2 separate regions of the Homo sapiens genome follow, and region 1 is linked to region 2. The links come from fine-mapping of genetic effects on gene expression. A gene starts in region 2. The other region holds a variant in brackets. All regions are shown on one strand. Distances are between the middles of the regions.

Evidence for each region.
Region 1: its variant is fine-mapped to the expression of PTPRN in whole blood (TOPMed, PIP 0.94).

Annotation. Positions count from the first base shown.
Region 1 is chr2:219,279,255-219,284,550 of GRCh38, reverse strand. It overlaps DNAJB2 (DnaJ heat shock protein family (Hsp40) member B2), which reads right to left and starts at 5,185. Exons shown (of 9, transcript NM_006736.6): 1 at 5,033-5,185; 2 at 4,653-4,753; 3 at 3,864-3,973; 4 at 2,780-2,833; 5 at 2,490-2,612; 6 at 1,622-1,714; 7 at 1,316-1,418; 8 at 1,062-1,132. The coding sequence starts at 4,717. RefSeq lists a silencer at 4,861-5,296. The variant C/T (reference allele first, on the strand shown) is at 2,622.
Region 2 is chr2:219,306,950-219,312,318 of GRCh38, reverse strand. PTPRN (protein tyrosine phosphatase receptor type N) reads left to right here and starts at 2,918. Exons shown (of 23, transcript NM_002846.4): 1 at 2,918-3,101; 2 at 4,477-4,527; 3 at 4,762-4,875. The coding sequence starts at 2,987.

The DNA of each region.
Region 1 (5,296 bases), 28 kb after region 2:
GACCACTTAGAGTCTCTTATTTGGAATTGGCACACATGCATTTTGGCACCTAGGCTTGTGATTTTGAGCACAAGGAAGTATTCAGCTCTACCAGGTAGAAGCTCCTACCCTTAGGCAAGTCACTCAACATCCCTACCCCTCCCTTTCCTCATCTAGAAAGTGGGAATGATGGCCGGGCACAGTGGCTCATGCCTGTAATCCCAACACTTTGGGAGGCCGAGGTAGAAGGATCACTTGAGCCTAGAAGTTCGAGACTAGCCTAGGCAACATAGTGAGACCCCATCTCTACAAAATAGTTTAAAAATTAGCTGGGCATGGTAGCACACGCCTGTAGTCCCAGCTACACAGGGGGCTGAAGTGGGAGGACTGCTTGAGCCGAGGAGGTCGAGGCTGTAGTGAGCCATAATCGTGCTGGGCTGAGCACGACCCTGTTTCAAAAAAAGAAAAAAAAGAAAATGGGAATGATGATAGTGCCTTCATACTCAAATTGTTCCAATGATTAAATATGTCAGCCCATGTAAAGGGCTTGGTACGCAGTGCTGGGAGTCAGCAGGCGTGAAAGGTTAGCTGTGGTGACGGCCCTGCACAGCATGGTGTTGCAGGGGCAGTTCTGCTCCGGGAATCGTGCGTCCTGAGTTTGACTCCTGGCTCTACTCCTTACTTGGAAGGAAAGAGTCTTGGGCCTGGGCTACTTGGAAGTTAGGGTCATTTAACTATGCTGCAGCTCAGGCTCCCCAAATTAAAACTAAGTGGATACCATCTGCCCTGTGTACTCCCCCAGATGCTTGAAGAATACAGAGGATATCGTATATCTGGAAGTGCTTTAAAAATAGTAAAGTGCTTTGCAAATGTAAGGCACCCCACTCACAGTGACGGCGATGGCTTCGTGAGACTCCTTCACCCCCTTCCCGACATTGCCATCTCTGATCCTACCAGTCTGGCCTGTTGCCACTCCCTCCCAAGCCCTAAGTGAGTTCAGAGAGCAGCAGTTTGGGGAGGAGGCTGCTGAGGTTGGGGCTGGGGCTTCCTGCCAGGGGCTGGGTAGGGGAGCTGCTCCTCACCATTGATTGTGACTGACTTCAGCTGCCCATCCTCCTCCACTTCCACCCGCTCCTGCCCGTTCTCCATGATTCTGTGGGAGACAGCACAGTTCAGGCAACGAGCAGTGACAGAATCCTGCAGGCGCTGGTCCCAGTTCTGGCCACCGCAGTAGAGAGCGCAGACTGGGCCCTGCCCTCAAGGAGCCAACTTTCTATTTGAACACAGCTCCCCAGCAGACCTCTCACCCCTCTATGGCCCCAGAAGGAGCTCTCACCTGCGTGTGGTGATGCGGCGTCCTTGGACAAAGGTGGTAGATGTAGAAACAGAGCGAAAAGCACCAGCCCCAGGACTGAAGGAGAAAGATGAGGAGGAGAAATCTGGCATCGGGACAAGGGAGGAGGAGGAGAGGTGGTTAGAAGAAGACTGCGCTGCCTGTTGTGGTCACCGAGGCTCCAGGCCGCCTCGCAGGGCTGCTGGAGGCAGGGCTCCCAACACAGGAGACAGGCTTGGAAAAGCAACAAGCTCAAGCCAGGGGTTCCAGGAATCGGAGCTTGCAAACGTGGGAAGGGGCAGAACTTACCGGAGTGCCCAGGGAAGGAGGAAGAGAAGGTAAAGAAGGGGCCTGAGTGTCGGGAACCCCGGTTCTGAAGCTCTGAGAAGGGGCCCAGGTCATCTGCAACAAGTAAACAGATTAGCAGTCATCTGGTAATGACATTTCCCCTCAAAAGTGTGTGAGCCCAAGTCTGGAAGTATAAACCACTAAGCAACTGGGTAGGGTTTTTCTTTTCCGCTTTTTAGTTGGGCTTATTTATAAATTCCTTTTTAATGTTGAATTCGAAAACACTCACTGGTTAATTCTGTCCACAATAAAGAATAAAGGAAGGAAGGAGGGGGAAGAGGGATGGAGGACAGATGGCTCTTTCAGTACAGGCAAATCATCATGACGCGATGACAGGCAGACACAGCTAGGAGTCCAGCTCTGCCATGTGTTATGTGACTCTGGGCTATTAACTGTGCCTCAGTTTTCTCATCTGCAAATGGGGAGAAAATTGCCCACCTGTCAGGATTCACTAGAGACTTACGAAATGTAAAATATTTGGCACATATCTATCATTAAAAAATACCACTATCTGTTTTATAGGTAATAATAACAATATTGTCACAAGATGCTTTGAGTCTTGCTTTCATGGCTGTTACTATAGAAGTCTAACAATGTATTATTGTTGTAATTTAATAAGGTGAGTCTGTGAAGTGTCACTGTTGGATTACGGGGGTTCTGGCACACGTGAGGTTCTGTCCCGGCTCTCACTGGACCCAGCTCCACAAAATCTTCTGTCCGTGGCATTCCCGTCCCCTCTCAGCCTTCCACCTCAGGGCCTCCCAGCTGATGGAAGGACAGGCCTGGAGGGGGAAGTTGAGCCATTCAGAGGCTTCCAGAGTCCACTCACCAAAGAGCTCTGCAAAAGGGTCTCCACTCCCAAAGAATTCCCGGAAGACCTCCTCGGGGCTGCGGAAGGTGAAGGTGAAGCCAGGCCCACCACTGCCAGCTTCTGCCCGAGATGGGCCAGTTCCTGGAAAGG[C/T]AGGATGAGGAGAGAGCTTAGGGCATGCATCCTGCCCTGAGCGGGGGACCTCACCTAAGGCACAGCCAGGAGCCTGAGAGAGCCTCCATTGCAAGAATCTGCCCTGCCCCTCTCCTCCCTGCCCCACCTCCATTCCTGGGCCTCACCACTCCACCTACCTGTCCCTGTCAGCCCTTCCCGGCCATAGCGGTCGTAAATCTCCCGCTTGTGCTCTGCAAAAAGAGACCAGATCATTTCACCCTCCCTCTGGGATGGGCTCCCCTCCCAGGCTAGGACGTTCAAAGGATTGTCCAGAGACTGACACTCTGACACTTGGCGGGGGAAAGCAGGCACAGCAGGGGACCCAGGGGACACGGGCTATAGGTTTAGGCAGCAACTCAGCCTTTCACACAGCTGGCCTCTTCTCATCTGGAAAATGGCTGTCATCACAACACCTACCGCACAGGGTTGTTGCACAGATCAAATGAGACCATCCACGTAAACTGCCTACCAGTGCCTGACACATAGAAAGTGTTCAATAAATGTTAGCTAATGATTACTACATTATTATTCACCAGGGCTTAGCCTAAATGTCACCTTCTCGGAGAGGCCTTCTACAACCACCAGAACTAAAGCAAGTGCACATTATTCCCTAGCACTCCACCTGCCCTGTTTCTTCCCTCGGAATACTCTTCACAAGCTGTAACTGTGTCTGTGTGTGTGCCTGGTAGGTGTTGGTCTTCCCTGCCCCTCTGGGCAAAGACAGTGCCTGCTTGTCCTCCAGTTTCCCCAGCACCCAGCGAGTGCCGGACACTGTCACCATTCACTGAATTACTTTTCGAATGAATCAATAAAAAGGCAGACCTGGATTCATATTCCAGCTCTGCGTGGCCTTGAGCAAGTTACTTCACCTCTCTCAGCCTCAGTTTCCTTGCCTGTAAAATAGGGGTGATAGAACCTGCCTCATAGGACGGCTGTGAGAACTCATGGAGATGACACCCACCAATGCCTGGCACGCAGGAGGCTCAGCTCACATGAGTTACCTGCCCTGCTTCCTTCCCCTTTCAGGTCTCATGCCAGCCACTCCTACCAGACTCTGGGGAGCAGACACTGAGCTGTCCCTGTGGGAGGGGGGAGCTTAAATGTCAGGCTGGAAAAAGGCACAGAGGAAACTAGGTGGCAGAGACATTGCTTTAAGAAAATGTGAGCTGGGGCATGAAGTAGGGGGTGATGTGCTGGGTCCTGCCTGACCCCGGCCCTTACTGTCAGACAGCACTTCATATGCCTCGGCCACCTCCTTAAATTTCTTCTCAGCAAACTCTTTATTATCTGGGTTTTTGTCTGGGTGCCACTGGAGAGCCTTGCGCCGATACCTGCAGAAAGTGGGTGCAGAGGAGAGAGTCGGGGGACAAATGCAGGCACTTCCCACCCAGGAACCGAACGACCTGTTTTCCCATTAGCCTATCACTGTCCTTTCACCCCCGGGTCCCAGTCCACCCCAGCTGCTAGGGCTGCCGCTGCTGTGATATTTTCATCAAGTTCCACCCTCTCTCCTCCGCCACCAGTGCTGGGACCACATGTACAAGCGGATACAATGCCAGGGTCCCTAGCCCCTCCCTAGGGCTCACTGGACTGGGGCTGCAAAGGTTGGGGCACATGTGGCCTCGAAGAGTACAGGGACACCGGCCCCTCCTCCTCATAGAGCCTCTTTGCACTGCATCTTTGCACTGCAGCCTGAGAATGCCCAAATCTAGGGGGAAGGGGGAGGGGAGGGGAAAGGAGGAGGAGGAGGAGGAGGAGGGGAAGATCAACTGGAGAACAACCCATAACACAGTGCAGCTCCCAGAGGAACTAACTACTTCACTCTCTGGACGTTCTCCTTGTACTCTACCAGGGGTCTCTTTCCTCCCTGCAGGTGTCACTCGGAAGAAGCACCCCAGTGCTTTCTAACGACCTGGTTCCCTCAGACACCTACAGGTGTCACTCTGAAGTGCCCCATGGTGGTGGCGGGTGGAGGGTGAGAGGTCTTCTGTTGCATACGGAGGCACTTACGCCTTCTTGATGTCATCAGCGGACGCACTTCGCGGCACGTCTAGGATCTCGTAGTAGGATGCCATGGCAACTGGTCAGTCGTCAGGCGGGCCTCCTTGGGGCTGCAGAAGAGAAGGAGTCAGGCGGAAAGAACCAAGAGCCCCACCCTGTGGCTGCAGCAGTCCCCCTCCCCGGGTGGCGGAAGGCGCTCCCAGTTGGAAGCGGAGCACACCGGGCTCTGCTTGCGGCCGGTGACTAGGCTCCCTCCGGCAGCCTTATCTGCCCCCGCAGGCCGGGGCCAAGAGCTATCTCGACGCCCAGGCCCAGGAGCCCTATCGGGGCCCCCCAACTCCAGCAGTCCGATCCAGGGCCCCCAGCCTGACCCGGGCCCCCGGCCGCACCTCCTCCGCCAGGAGTCCCGGCCTCCTGCGGCGCCCCGCCCCTGCCCCCCGCCGGGAACCGTCTGGCACCCGCAGCCCGGCTCGCGGCTGCTGCGTAGGACGCGCCCGGCCCAGCTGTGCGCGCAGGCATGCGTCAGCGGTGCGGAAACTACTAGAGACGGGGAGAAGGCCGGCTCCGCCTGTCCCCTGGGGGGGTGGGGGCCTGCAGGGGCTGCCGGGAGAAGAGGGCGGAGCCGGCTATTTTGGGCACACACCAGGACGACG
Region 2 (5,369 bases):
AATCTCCTGGGCTCACGTGATCCTTCTGCCTCGGCCTTCCAAAGTGCTGGGATCACAGGCATGAGCCATTGTGCTTGGCCTCTACAAAAAAAAAAAAAAAAATTAGCCAGGCATGGTTGCTCACAATGGTAGCTGCTCAGGAGGCTGGGGCAGAAGGATTGCTTGAGCCCAGGAGTTGAAGGCTGCAGTGAGCTATGATCTTGTCACTGCACTCCAGACTGGGTGATAGAGTGAGACCCTGACTCTAAATAAATAAATAAATGTTTAAAAATGTATTAGTCACTGTTAGAGGTCACTACACTACACAGACTCATTATTTTGCAGAAGGGTAAAGAGAAAAAGCTGAGAATATATGTTACCTTTCCAGTTGGAATTGCATTTTAGTGTAAACTAAACCCAGTTGATGAGAGAAAGCCCTTCTTTACAAAGTAAAATAAGCGATAAACGTGAATTGAATGATAGGATTATAAAAATCACCATTTTGCAACCTCTAATGAAATCATTTAGTCAAGGATGGATCACCAGTGAATAGTGAAACCATTAGGTGAAAAGTTGATGAGGAACTAGATAGTCTCACAGTGCCAAAGTATCATCCAAGAATTACATGCTGGTCACATTAGAAAACCACAGCTTTACATACAGAGATCTGGCTGTCTCTACCTTAAACCAGTGATCAATTTTAACATCACTAATAGAACAGTCAGACATCATGTACTTCCTGAAATGATGCAATGAGAGGCATTTTGCTTTAAAAATTCTTTAATTTGATACAGTCAATACTTCATATATAACTTCTAGTTTACAGGAAATACAGGTGATATACAGGTTATACACTGGAGAAATACAGGGAAATACAACATGAAGAAAAAAATCAGATAAACCCAGAAGAAGAGTTCTAAAGAAAAATTGACCTGGTCTATCAACATGACAATGTCAAAAATGGGGGAGGGGAGAGAGGATATGGTGTCTATGCTAATTTACAGAGATTAAGAAACATAACAAAGGCCGTGGTTGTTCTTAATTGACTGTTATTTTGAACAAAACACCTGAAAAGAAAAGGCATTTTTGGGGAAACAATCTGAGAAATTTGAATATGAACTGAGCATTAAATTATATTAAGGAATGCCCGGGCGCGGTGGCTCACGCCTGTGATCCTAGCACTTTGGGAGGCCGAGGTGGGTGCATCACGAGGTCAGGAGATCGAGACCATCTTGGCTAACACGGTGAAACCCCGTCTCTACTAAAAATACAAAAAATTAGCCGGGTGCAGTGGCAGGCACCTGTAATCCCAGCTACTCAGGAGGCTGAGGCAGGAGAATGGCGTGAACCTGGGAGGGGGAGCTTGCAGTGAGCCAAGATAGTGCCACTGCAGTCTGGCCTGGGCAAAAGAGCGCAAGACTCCTTCTCAAAAAAATAAAAAAAAAAATTTAAAAAATTATATTAAGGAATTATTGTAAATTTTTTTAGGTGTCATAACAGCACTTAGGTTATGCAGGAAAATGTCCTTATTTCTTGGAGATGCATAATGAAATATTTAGAAGAGAAATGTCATGATGTCTATCATTCATGTTTAAATACTAAAAAGAAGCAAATATTGTAAAACATCAATAACCATTAAGTATGGATGATGAGTATGTAAGTATTCATTATGCATTTCTGTCCTTTTTAAATTTTATTTTATTTTACTGGAAAGCAAGAGAGGAAGGAGATCAAATCTGAACTTAAGAAGCTCACTCCCCTACTTATTGGATGACTAGAGTGGAAGCAAAAGAGCAGTTACTAGCTGATTGCTGCAGTGGTCGTGGTGAAAGAGCACAGTGTTTCAGTTCAGGTAGTGAGGATGGACAGAAGTGGACTGATGGGAGATGTATTTTGCAGGGAGAAACCATAAAATGATTGATAGCCTCGAGGTGGCACAGACGGAGAGAAAGGAGAGTCAAAGCTAATGATGAGGCCAGGCCCGGTAGCTCACACCTGTAATCCCAGCATTTTGGGAGGCGAAGGCCGTTGGATCACCTGAGGTCAAGAGTTCAAGACCATCCTGGCCAACAAGGTGAAATCCCATCTCCAATAAAAATGCAAAAATTAGCCGGGCAAGGTGCTGTGCGCCTGTAATTCCAGCTACTAGGGAGGCTGAGGCAGGAGAATGGCTTGAACCCAGAAGGTGGACATTGCAGTGAGCCAAGATCACGCCAGTATCCAGCCTGGCCAACAGAGCAAGACTCCATCTCAATAAAAAATAAATAAAAGCTAATGATGACAGCTAATATGTATGGAGCATGTAGTATGCACCAGTCCAGTCATCCTTCTAAGTGATCCATATTAGTGTAACGAACAAAATCTTCACAATCACTGTGTGAGGCGGGTAGTAACTATTAACACCTCCACTTTGCAGATCAGGAAACTTGGACGCAGACAAGTTAAACAAGGTGCCCAAGGTCATACCCTTAGTAGATGCCCTGCTAGAACTGGAATCTAGGCATGCCTAACCATTTTTTCTTAAGGAAGAGAACAGTATCTTCAATGACAATGAGTAAGAGTACTTATTCTACCCACTTTTCTGCTTCTTGTCTTCGGGTTTATCGTTCTGGACCCACCTATCTTTCCTGGCCCCCCACTTAACTTAACCCTTTTCACCCACCCTGGGGCGGGGAGACAGAGGTGATCCTAGAAGAGGGCTACAGGGATGGGGCCAAGTGGGAATTCTAGCGAGGCGCCTACTATTTGATGGAGGAGGGATGGGCTAGGTAGGTCCCCCGCTCCGACAGGGCTCTTACGCCATATGTGACGCAAATTAGCTTACGAGCCGGGGGTGGAGGTGTCGTCAGCACCCGCCTGCGGTTGGCCGCGTTGCAGCGAGAGGGGCATGTAGACCCCGCCTCGTAGGGAGGTGGGGAGCGGCAAGCCCCGCCTCAGCCCCTCTGGCAGGCTCCCGCCAGCGTCGCTGCGGCTCCGGCCCGGGAGCGAGCGCCCGGAGCTCGGAAAGATGCGGCGCCCGCGGCGGCCTGGGGGTCTCGGGGGATCCGGGGGTCTCCGGCTGCTCCTCTGCCTCCTGCTGCTGAGCAGCCGCCCGGGGGGCTGCAGCGCCGTTAGTGCCCACGGTCAGGAGGAAACTTGGGCTGGCGGGTGGTGGGGGGCGGGGAGCAGCTTGGGGCCTGGAGCGAAACTCGGTGGGGGTGAGGGTGAAATGTCATGAAGCTCGGGGAGAATATGGGTTGGGGGAGGCATGCGAGATGAGGAAGGTGAGAGGGCGTCTCGGAGGAAAGGGGCGTAGGCCTGGAGGTGGGGCTGGGAATACGGGGGCGGGACCTAAGAGAATTGGGCTCTGGGGAAAATTGCAGGTTCGGGAGAAGGACACGGGGTGCATGTGGGCAGAGGGACTTAGAGACCGGCTGCGAGACCACAGGAGAAGCCACTTGCTCCGAGGCGCCTGGGAGGTGGTGACAGGCGCTGAGGAATGGGAAGGGGAGGTGGCGGGGAGAATGAGGGAACGGTGATCTCTGGGCAGTGGAAGCCTGGGCCGCAGACATAGAGTCCCAGCTGGGCAGAGAGAGAGGCCAGGGTTTCTCCGTAAGCCTAGAGAAGCTGATTGCAGCGATCTGATCTCCTGTAACGGGGGACAGCACGGGGAGGGGGCAGAAGAGGATGAAGAGGGGAGGGTCCTCTCTTGTCCCCCTCCCCACAGCCAGGCCTGGTGCTGACTCACATCTGTGCGGACAGAGACAGTCAGCGCTGACTCACGGACAGGGGGTGGGGGATGGGAGGGTGGCGCGTGGGGGAAGGGGCGCAGCCTCGCCGCCTGGCGCCCTCTTTCCCCACCCGGGCTTGGAGGCCCGAGAGGCAGAGTACTTCCTGTGACGCTGTGGGTTGGCAGAATACAACAGAGGGCTCAGGTCTAGTGGAGAGTCCTCGCTCTGTGACCCCTTCCTCTCTGGTAACCGCCTCCAAGGCCAGCCCTTGGCGGCGCCAGACTCAGAGCTTCAGCACCGCGGACAGCGCCAGCGGCTCGGGACAGCGCGAGGAGAGATGCCTAAGAGACACCCTCCCCAGCCCCACCCATGCCCTCTTTCCCCCGACCGGGGGAAGTGTGCTAGAACCTCTTCTGAGTTCCAGGCCATTATAGGATGCTTTTCCATATTTGGGAAGGAAATTCCTCTTTCAGAATTTGGCCAAAACCTCTCCTGCAGTAATTCTATGAATCTCTCTCCCTGCACCTGGAAGGTTTCTTCCCTATCACTCAGTTAAGCAAACAGAGGCTTTTAAGGATACAGACTCACAAATTCTTAAAATCCAAAACAAGATCCCATGCTTCCTTTTAAGAAATTCAGGCCTGATTCCTACTCTCCTCCCAGCTTAAGGCCTTCTTTAGAATGAAAGAATAAATTGCATCTGCTTCTCCCGTTCCCAGCCTGTCCACCCATCTGCCCATTCTCTGTGAGTGGGTGTCTGAGCCTCTGCTCACCTTTTCCTCTACAGGCTGTCTATTTGACCGCAGGCTCTGCTCTCACCTGGAAGTCTGTATTCAGGGTGAGTGAGGCCCAAGCATAGAACTCACAAGATCGGGGGGAGAGGGGCAATAAAAAACAAGAAGGGGAGAGAAGGCCCAGAAAGGAAGAGGGCTACTGGGCTTGAGAAGAAGGAAGACTTGCCTGGAGGAGGAGAGGTAGGGGAGAAAGTGAAGAGAGTACAGTCCATTTGCAACCTGGACTTTGGAAGGCCTCTTATTCAAGCCCCCTGCTGACACCACTTTTGTGCCCTTAGATGGCTTGTTTGGGCAGTGCCAGGTGGGAGTGGGGCAGGCCCGGCCCCTTTTGCAAGTCACCTCCCCAGTTCTCCAACGCTTACAAGGTGTGCTCCGACAACTCATGTCCCAAGGTAAGGTCTGGGTGCACTGGAGGAGAGAGATTGGAACTTGGTTAGTTATGGGTGGGGAAGAAGATTTCTCTTCAAGGAATATTCCTATCACCCCCACTGCTGGAGCCTCACCTTCCCATATCTTGCTAGAGTAAGAGGTGGAACCCTAGAGATGGGCTATTCACATTTGGACTCTCTGGAGAAGCCCAGAGGAGCCTTCTAAGAAGAAGTCACTGGAAAAGGCCAGCTTCCATCTTCTTAGGACCAGTTCCTCTCACTGGCATTGTCTGAGTGCTACAGAGCCAAGAACTCTGGAATCCTCAGCCAGGATAATATTCCACTCACCCAATTCCTCATTCAACAAGTATTTATTGAGTACTTACTATGTAGCAGGCATAGTTTTAGGTATTTGGAATGTATCGGGAATAAAACAAAGATCTCTGCTTACTGGAGTTTCTGTTTGGGGGATAAGGGGAGGAAACACGCTATAAAAGTTAGAAAATACATAGTGTCTT